2 linked regions of the Homo sapiens genome follow. The protein of the gene in region 1 purifies or fractionates together with the protein of each later gene. This does not show direct contact. Each region holds a gene or a part of one and is shown in the gene's direction. Other genes may lie near its edges.

Region 1 (4,231 bases):
GGCAGGCAGATCACCTGAGGTCAGGCATTCAAGACCAGCCTGGCCAACATGGTGAAACACTGTCTCTACTAAAAATACAAAAATTAGTGGGGCGTGGTGGTGCATGCCTGTAATCCCAGCTACTTGGGAGGCTGAGGCAGGAGAATCACTTGAACCTGGGAGGCGGAGGTTGCAGTGAGCCGAGATTGCGCCGCTGCACTCCAGCCTGGGTGACAGAGGGAGACTCCATCTCAGGAAAAAAAAAAAAAAAAGGTATAAATCAAATTCCTGGGCTCAAGCAACGCACCCCACTTCAGCCTCCCAAAGTGCTGGGACCATACCCACTCCATGACCCTGTTTCTAAAAAACAAAACAAAAAATACTAAAAGCAACAACAGACGTCAGCACATGGGAAAAACTGATGCCAGTCATAAATGCTTGTGGAAATTTTATGTTGTGCCGCACTGTCGAGTGCTGTAGTTGACAAGGTGATGTGTTTCACAAGGGCTTTTAAAGCTAGTCACGCTTGCCCTGTCTCAGATTGAATTAAATCAGCCTGCTTCAGATTCCCTATGGGTATGAAAACTTCCTCCCTTCTTTCCTCGGGGCTCACTGGCCCCTCTTATAGTCCTGCCTCAGGTACTAGCCTCTTCAGCAGGTGTGATTACCTAGGCCAGGGTTCACCTGTTCTAGGACACTCAGGGTTCAGGTAATATAAGTGGGTAAAGCAGATGGAATGGATGGGCTAGCAGCTCCAACTTATTCTCAGGTGGGCTTGGAGGCTCAGCATTAATAAAGCTTAATTTTAAGAGAGGCCAGGCAGAATACCAAACTGTGAGCTAAATTTGACCTGTAAGCTCTCTGACTTAAGCCTTTCCTTGATTATATTTTCTGTGTCTTCCCTTTAGCAAGAATGGATTCGATTTGAATCCCACAGTAAGGTTTGCCGATCTGTCTCAGCTGGTTAGAGATGCCTTGCGGGCAAAAGGCCCAGTAGTGTGGTAGAAAACCTTGGCTGGAAGGGGGCTCAGGGCTCAGCGCTCAGCCTAACCTGTGCTTTCAGGGGAGCTCTTTGCTCAGGCCCCGGTGGATCAGTTTCCTGGCACAGCTGTGGAGAGTGTGACGGATTCCAGCAGGTACTTCGTGATCCGCATCGAAGATGGAAATGGTAGGCATGGGTCCTGGTGCTTCCTCCTCTTGGGAAAGGTTTTCTCTGCCTTTGGAAGGTGGGTTGATCATGTGTTGTTCCCCAGGGCGACGGGCGTTTATTGGAATTGGCTTCGGGGACCGAGGTGATGCCTTTGACTTCAATGTTGCATTGCAGGACCATTTCAAGTGAGTGGGTCTGGGAGACACACGCTCATGCCCCTCCCTTCTTTCCCTGGACAGAATGATCTCCCAGGTTAGGATACCCAAGTGTTTGTGTGTGATTTGTCTGGCAGCAGAGACTCAGGAGAACCCAGGACAAGCCACCTCTCTTCTCTGCCAATGTTCATCTCTGCTGTAAAGCCTTCTCTTTTACCTGAGGCTCATCTCTACCATCCCAGCCTTCGGGCCTGCCACCTGTCTCCCCTTACCAGTCCCCTGAGCAGCCAGAGTCCTCATCAGGCTCCTGTGGCCTTTCTGGGCCTGCTCCTCCATGTAATCAATGGCGCTTGGATTCCCAGGGCACCCAGCAGATGCCCTGATGTCCTTTTCTGAAGCTAAGAGACAGGGCAGGAAGTCCTCCTCCACCATCTGCAGGGCTCGAACTCAGGCTGCCAGTGAGTGGGCTGTGCCCGGCCACTCACATGGGCGCCTCTGGCTCTTCCCTTACCGGTGCTGCTGGGTGGTGTGGTATGGAGGGTGGGGGACTTTTGTGTTGCCCTCTACTTTTGGGTATCTGTCTTGTCCCCCCGTCTGCCTTCTGAGTGTTTGAGGGTGTGTAGAGACCGCATCTTAGTTCTCATGTCATATACTGTAGAGGGAAGGGCAGGCTCTCACGTGTCCTAGAGATAGTGTTAGGACCCTCTACGTAAGTGATCTCGCTGCATTCGTAGCCATCTTGAAAACCTATAGAATTGTGGGCATATTTTGCTGATGAGGAAACCAATGTGCATGCCGCTACTTAAGTGTCAGATTGGGATTTGAATTCAGGCCTCACTCCCAAGCCTGCACTCTTTCCAGCACCCCGTCTCACTACGAGGCTCAGCCTGGACTGATAGCAGGCAGTAGTGAAGTGAGCCAGTGATTGCAGGGCAGCTGGTCTCTTCCTTCCTCACCTTTTTCCTCATGTTCTCTCCCCAGGTGGGTGAAACAGCAGTGTGAATTTGCAAAACAAGCCCAGAACCCAGACCAAGGCCCTAAACTGGACCTGGGCTTCAAGGAGGGCCAGACCATCAAGCTCAACATCGCAGTGAGTTCTACCCTTGCTTGGCTGTGGTGACGTGATACTTGTGGCCACCCAGCCCCAGAGCCCATTGCTCTTCTTACAGTTCAGCTCCTTCAGTTCAGCAGATGTTTAGTGAGCATCTGCCTTGTGCCAGGTCCTGCATCGGGGTGAACAAGAGACCTCTGTTCTCATGGAGCTCAGAGTTGAGCTGAGACAGGCAGGTAAAAATGTGATAACAACATGGCAGGAAAGGTTCCATGACTAAGGGATGCCCTGGGTGCCGTGGGCTCCTAGAGGAAGGGTGTGCAGCCCATAGTTGTGGGAACCAAGGAAGGCTTCCTGGAAGAAGGGACCTGTAGGCAAGGGAAGAGTGATCAAAGAGTGGTTCACACAGAGGAACAGCAGGTGCAAAGCCTCTGAACTGAGAAGGAGCATCAGTCATTTGCTGCCAGAGGTGGTGTTTCTGTCCTAGCTATTAGAGTGCATCAGGAGGGACCTGTGTGCTCATCCCAGGCTGTGTCTTGAATAAGGAAGATTTGGGAGAGTTCTGGCAGGAGGGCGTTGAGGTGGGCGCTGGGAGTCCTGGGCAGCTTGTGCTGATGGTGTTGTCCTGGCTCCTGTGTCTTCGTTCTGAGCTGCTCTGCCTCTGGCTTCCCTCCCGTCAGCTCCTGTTCATAGGAACAGGTTGGGCTGGGCTGGGCTGGGCTGGGTTGCCTAAAGTTGGCCTTTACCTGGCTGCAAGGGTGGAGAGGGGAGATGAGGTCAGAGTCATGATTGCGGGGACCCAAGGACCAAGTGGATTGGTTTTTGTTTTTGCTAGGAATACTGTGTTGAGATGGATTTGTTTTTTCAAGAAGCTTTGTAACTCTAAAATAATGCTTTTCCTCTTTACTTACTCTTTCTCCTCTTTTCTGCTTCGTGCTGGTGATGATTTGGGATCCTTGAAGTTGGCCAGCTGGCCCTTAAGAGAGAAATGCAAGTCCAATCCAGTGGACTGGTTGGGATGTGATTCTTTCTCTCGCTTGGAGGAAACTAACATTTAATGAGCATCAGCTGAGGGCCAGGTAGTGGTTTTTTTTTGTTTTGTTTTGTTTTTTGTTTTGTTTTGTTGTTTTTTTTTTTTAGGCATTTCTCATGTGAATTAAACATCCTCTCCCTTTCCTCCATGAGATGAGGAAATGGAGGCTTAGGGAGGGTTGGGGACTTGCCCAGGGTCACAGAGCTAGAAATAACTGGCACAGCTGTGCTCACACTGAGGTCTTTGAGGTCTTTTGACTTCAGGGCTGGACTTACGATTTTATTAAGCTGCTGCTTTCCTTACAAGTAGGGAACACATTATCTTCATCTGTGTAACTTGTGCTGCTTTCTGGCTCATGCTTGGTGCTCAGTTTTTTTTTTAAAGCATTTTCTTGAAGTATAATGTGCATGTAAAAAAGTGTACAAATCATAAATGCAGAACTCTGTGAAATTTAAAAAATCTAATCTATAGGCTGGGAGTGGTGGCTCACGCCTGTAATCCCAGCACTTTGGGAGGCTGAGGTGGGCGGATCACCTGAGGTCGGGAGTCCGAGACCAGCCTGACCAACATGGACAAACCCTGTCTCTACTAAAAATACAAAATTAGCCGGGCATGGTGGTCCATGGCTGTAATCCCAGCTACTCCGGGGGCTGAGGCAGGAGAATTGGCTTGAACCTGGGAGGTGGAGGTTGCAGTGAGCTGAGATCGAGCCATTCATTGCACTCCAGCCTGGACAACAAGAGCGAAACTCTGGCTCAAAAAACAAAACAAAACAAAACACCCAATTTATAAACTTGCACCTTGCTCAAGATGCAAAAGATTGTCAGCACTCTGGAAACACCTCTCCTGGCCCCTCCCAGTAA
Region 2 (3,500 bases), on another chromosome or scaffold:
CTCGGCCTCCCAAAGTGCTGGAATTACAGGTGTGAGCCACTGCGCCCAGCCATGTGTTTGTCTTACCAGTGTTACCCCTGCTTTGTCTTCGTGAAGGGTCAGATGAGTGTATCCAACAGAGCATGCTGGAAAGGAGAGGGGAGGGGATCTCCTAGTCAAGAGTCATCAGGGCAGGTTGCCTGGAGGAGGAGTTTTTCTGCCACGGGCAGGACTTTCCCCACTGCCTTGGTCATGGGAGGGTTCTAGGGTGTGGGTGCACTATCCCTTCAGAATCACTCAGTAGGTATCCACATCTTCCTAACAGCGCTGTGGCCACCTGGAATTGTTCATTCCTCATGCATTTCCACACCCTGCTTGTGGGGTTACAGACATTGGCCAACCATGTTGGTCTAAGGAATGAGGCTGTCTGTGCATAAGAACTTTTGGGTTCCTCACCATTTGAGTCTGCTGGTGGTGACAGTTCATTGGTTCATCCAGTAAAGATTGAAGATGGTTCTGTTGGGACCTGTGTGAGATGCCATGAACCCATAGTGACCAAGAGCAGTGCGGTCTGCATCCCCAGCCTTGGGCGACTGAGAGAGGGCCAGGGGAAAGGAGGCCTGATTGGGGGGCCCCTGGAGAGTTGTCCATGAGAGAGCCATGCCCCCCGGTCAGGTTCAGCCAGCTTCTGCGTACTCTCTCAGCCGCCGTGGCACAGCCAAGAACAAAAGCAGGGTGCTTTCTGTCCTCACAGATCTGTCCGGGGGCGTGCTCAGGGTTAACCGAGCAGGATGGGGGTGGGGAGGCGCTTTCAAAGCAGAGGGAACAGCCAGTGTGAGGTCCCAGGGGCAGGGGCAAGCCAAGCCTGGGGAGCAGATGGGCACCAGGCTGTGGAGGCCAAGGCCCGTGGAGGCCATTGCAGGATTGGAAGGAGTTTCTCAGGGTGCCATGATCAGATTTGCATTTCACAAGATAACATCAGCTGCTGTGGAAAGGGGGAGAGGGTGGAAATGGGGTGCCACCTGGCAGCTGCTGTCTTACCTGGGAAATCTGGTGGCAGCTTAGATGCTGGTGGCACCTCTGGAGATGGAGAGAAATGGAGGCCCTGGAGGCAGATGTAAGAGGTGGCCTTCACAGGACTTGGGTTGCGTGACTGTCTCAAGGGGGTTAGGGTGGGGTGGGGGGCTGGTGCCTGATGTTTCTGTGGTTTCTGGCCTGGCAACCTGAGAGACAGTGGGACCTTTGTTGGCACTGAGTGCGCTGCGGAAGCTGTCGGTGGGGTCTGAGCCTTTTCACCTCAAGGGGCCTGTGAGCCGTCCACAGGAGAGTAACCGCCTGAGAGGCGTTTGTGAGCCCACAGGATGCCGCTGGTGGATGTCTTCCATGGCAGGGCTCTAACTCATCCTGTTTGCTCAGCAAACACTCCCCAAACACTGGTTTCACACCAGGCTCTGAGCCAAGGTGGTAAAGACAGAAAAACAGAGCCTTTCCCTCAGCGAGCTCTCTGAGTACAGGAGAGACAGACACAAGCTCATATTTATCTGCCATAACATCACTGGGGCGAGGGAACCTGGGGGCAGGGTTCCAGGAGGAGGTGGTTCTTGAGCTGAGACTTGAATGACAAGGGCAGCCAAGCAGCAGAAGGCCTGCCAGGCGAGGGGTCCTCTTAGGTACTGTCCTTGGTCAGACCAGTTTCTACAGCCAAAGGCCAGCCCTGCCTCCTGCAAGGGAGGACAGGCGGTGATGGCCAGGAAGGCCCAGATTCTGGCCGAGGCCCAGGATGCCATTGGGCACTGAGCTCTGTCCTTAGCTCATGGCATCCCTCAGCCCTACTTCCCAAGTGATCCCTCCATTGCCAGCTCATGGCCTCCCTCAGCCCTACTTCCCAAGTGATCCCTCCATTGCCCTCTGAGGACTCAACGTCAGCCCTGGAGCGCTGAAGTGCCTCCCCACCCTGAGCTGCTCCGAGAGGCAGCCTGTCATGGCGGTGGCCCTAGATGGTACATGGGATTGTTCTGTTCCCAGTACACACCTGTTCATCCCCTAGCAGTAAAGGTGGGGGTGCTGGATCTGGGAGGCCCCTGCAGGAGAGAGAGAGAAAAAGCACCCTCAGGTGGGCTGTTGAGTTTGGGCTGCAGGAAGAGGCACCTACCCGCCCCCTCCGCACCCTCTTCCCTGCAGGTCTGGCTCCCAGCCATGAAGGCTAAGGGGCTGGAGATCTCAGGCACCTTCACCCGCCAGGTGGGCTCCATCTCCATGGACCTGCAGCTGACCAACAAGGCCTTGCAGGTCATGACCGACTTTGCCATCCAGTTCAACCGCAACAGGTGAGAGCTCCCTGAGGCCAGCGCACCTCTCAAGAGGAGGCCTGTGAGAGAACCCACTCGGAGTCTGTTCTGGGGACTGCAGGCAGGGGTGGGGGCTGTAGAGGGGAGGGCAGTGCCCCTTTTCTGAAGGATGTTCCCCACCACCGCTCAGGCCAAAACTCTCTGAAGCACTGGGTTTTGTTTGTTTGTTTTTTCTTTTGGAGACAGAGTCTCACTCTGTCACACAGGCTGGAGTGCAGCAGCGCCATCTCGGCTCACTGCGGCCTCCACCTCCTGGGTTCAAGCAATTCTTCCGCCTCAGCCTCCCGAGTAACTGGGACTACAGGTGCACACCACCACGCCTGGCTAATTTTTTGTATTTTTAGTAGAGATGGGGTTTCACCATCTTGCCCAGGCTGGTCTCGAACTCCTGAGCTCAGGCAATCCGCCCACCTCGGCCTCCCAAAGTGCTGGGATTATAGGTGTGAGTGACCGTGCTCAGCCAAGCAGTGGGATTTTTACCCCCAAGTGGCCTCTTCATATGGACTCCAAAGTACCAGGCAGAGTGGGAAAGGACGTCTTTCTTTTTAGTTTTTATTTTTTTTGAGATGGCCTCAGTGTATTGCCCAGGTTGGTCTTGAACCCTTGGGCTCAAGCAATCCTCCTGCCTCAGCCTCCTGGGTCTCTGGGACTACAGGTGCACGCCACCACACCTGGCCCCCCTTATTTTTGCCTCCACAGTCCAAAGGAGTGTTTTACAGACAGAAACGCCCTGCTCCAGCTGAGAAGCCCACCTCTGGCAAACACCCCACATAGGAGGGGCCCATCTTAGGGACCAGCTCTCAGAAGGCTGGTGGGGAGTGGGCCTGCCTACCAGCCTCCCCATTGTGGCAGAGGATTAAAGTGTCAGATGGGGCCTCTGGGAGCGGTAGCTGCTTCAGGCCCCTCCCCACCGGGTCCGCTACACTGGGTGTCAGTGGGAAGGTTGCGTCATGGACCCAGCCAGTGAGGCTAGGACTCCCTGGGGACCCCTGGCAGCCCCTCCTGATGATTCTTCTTCCTGAGCACGCTCATGATGAGCAAACTGAGCCTCTAAGAAGTTGACTGAAGGGGCTGCTTCCCCAAGGAAGCCTGGGGGCCAGTAGGTCCTGACCCTTGGGCAGACCGGGGCTAGGGGTGGCTCTACCACTTACCCTCATGTGACCCTGGAGGCCA

What was found. The genes of interacting proteins can lie anywhere in the genome.
Region 2: the proteins of NECAP2 (region 1) and AP1B1 purify together in Homo sapiens (affinity purification with mass spectrometry; 4 studies listed by BioGRID and IntAct, with this or other methods). This does not show direct contact.

The regions. Positions count from the first base shown.
Region 1 is NC_000001.11:16,446,828-16,451,058, forward strand, and holds part of NECAP2 (adaptin ear-binding coat-associated protein 2), read left to right. Parts: intron 1-1,042; coding exon 1,043-1,147; intron 1,148-1,232; coding exon 1,233-1,314; intron 1,315-2,265; coding exon 2,266-2,374; intron 2,375-3,297; coding exon of another isoform or gene 3,298-3,393; exon of another isoform or gene 3,394-3,414; intron 3,415-4,231. UniProt on the Homo sapiens protein: Involved in endocytosis.
Region 2 is NC_000022.11:29,333,071-29,336,570, reverse strand, and holds part of AP1B1 (AP-1 complex subunit beta-1), read left to right. Parts: intron 1-2,160; coding exon 2,161-2,306; intron 2,307-3,312; exon of another isoform or gene 3,313-3,408; intron 3,409-3,500. UniProt on the Homo sapiens protein: Subunit of clathrin-associated adaptor protein complex 1 that plays a role in protein sorting in the late-Golgi/trans-Golgi network (TGN) and/or endosomes.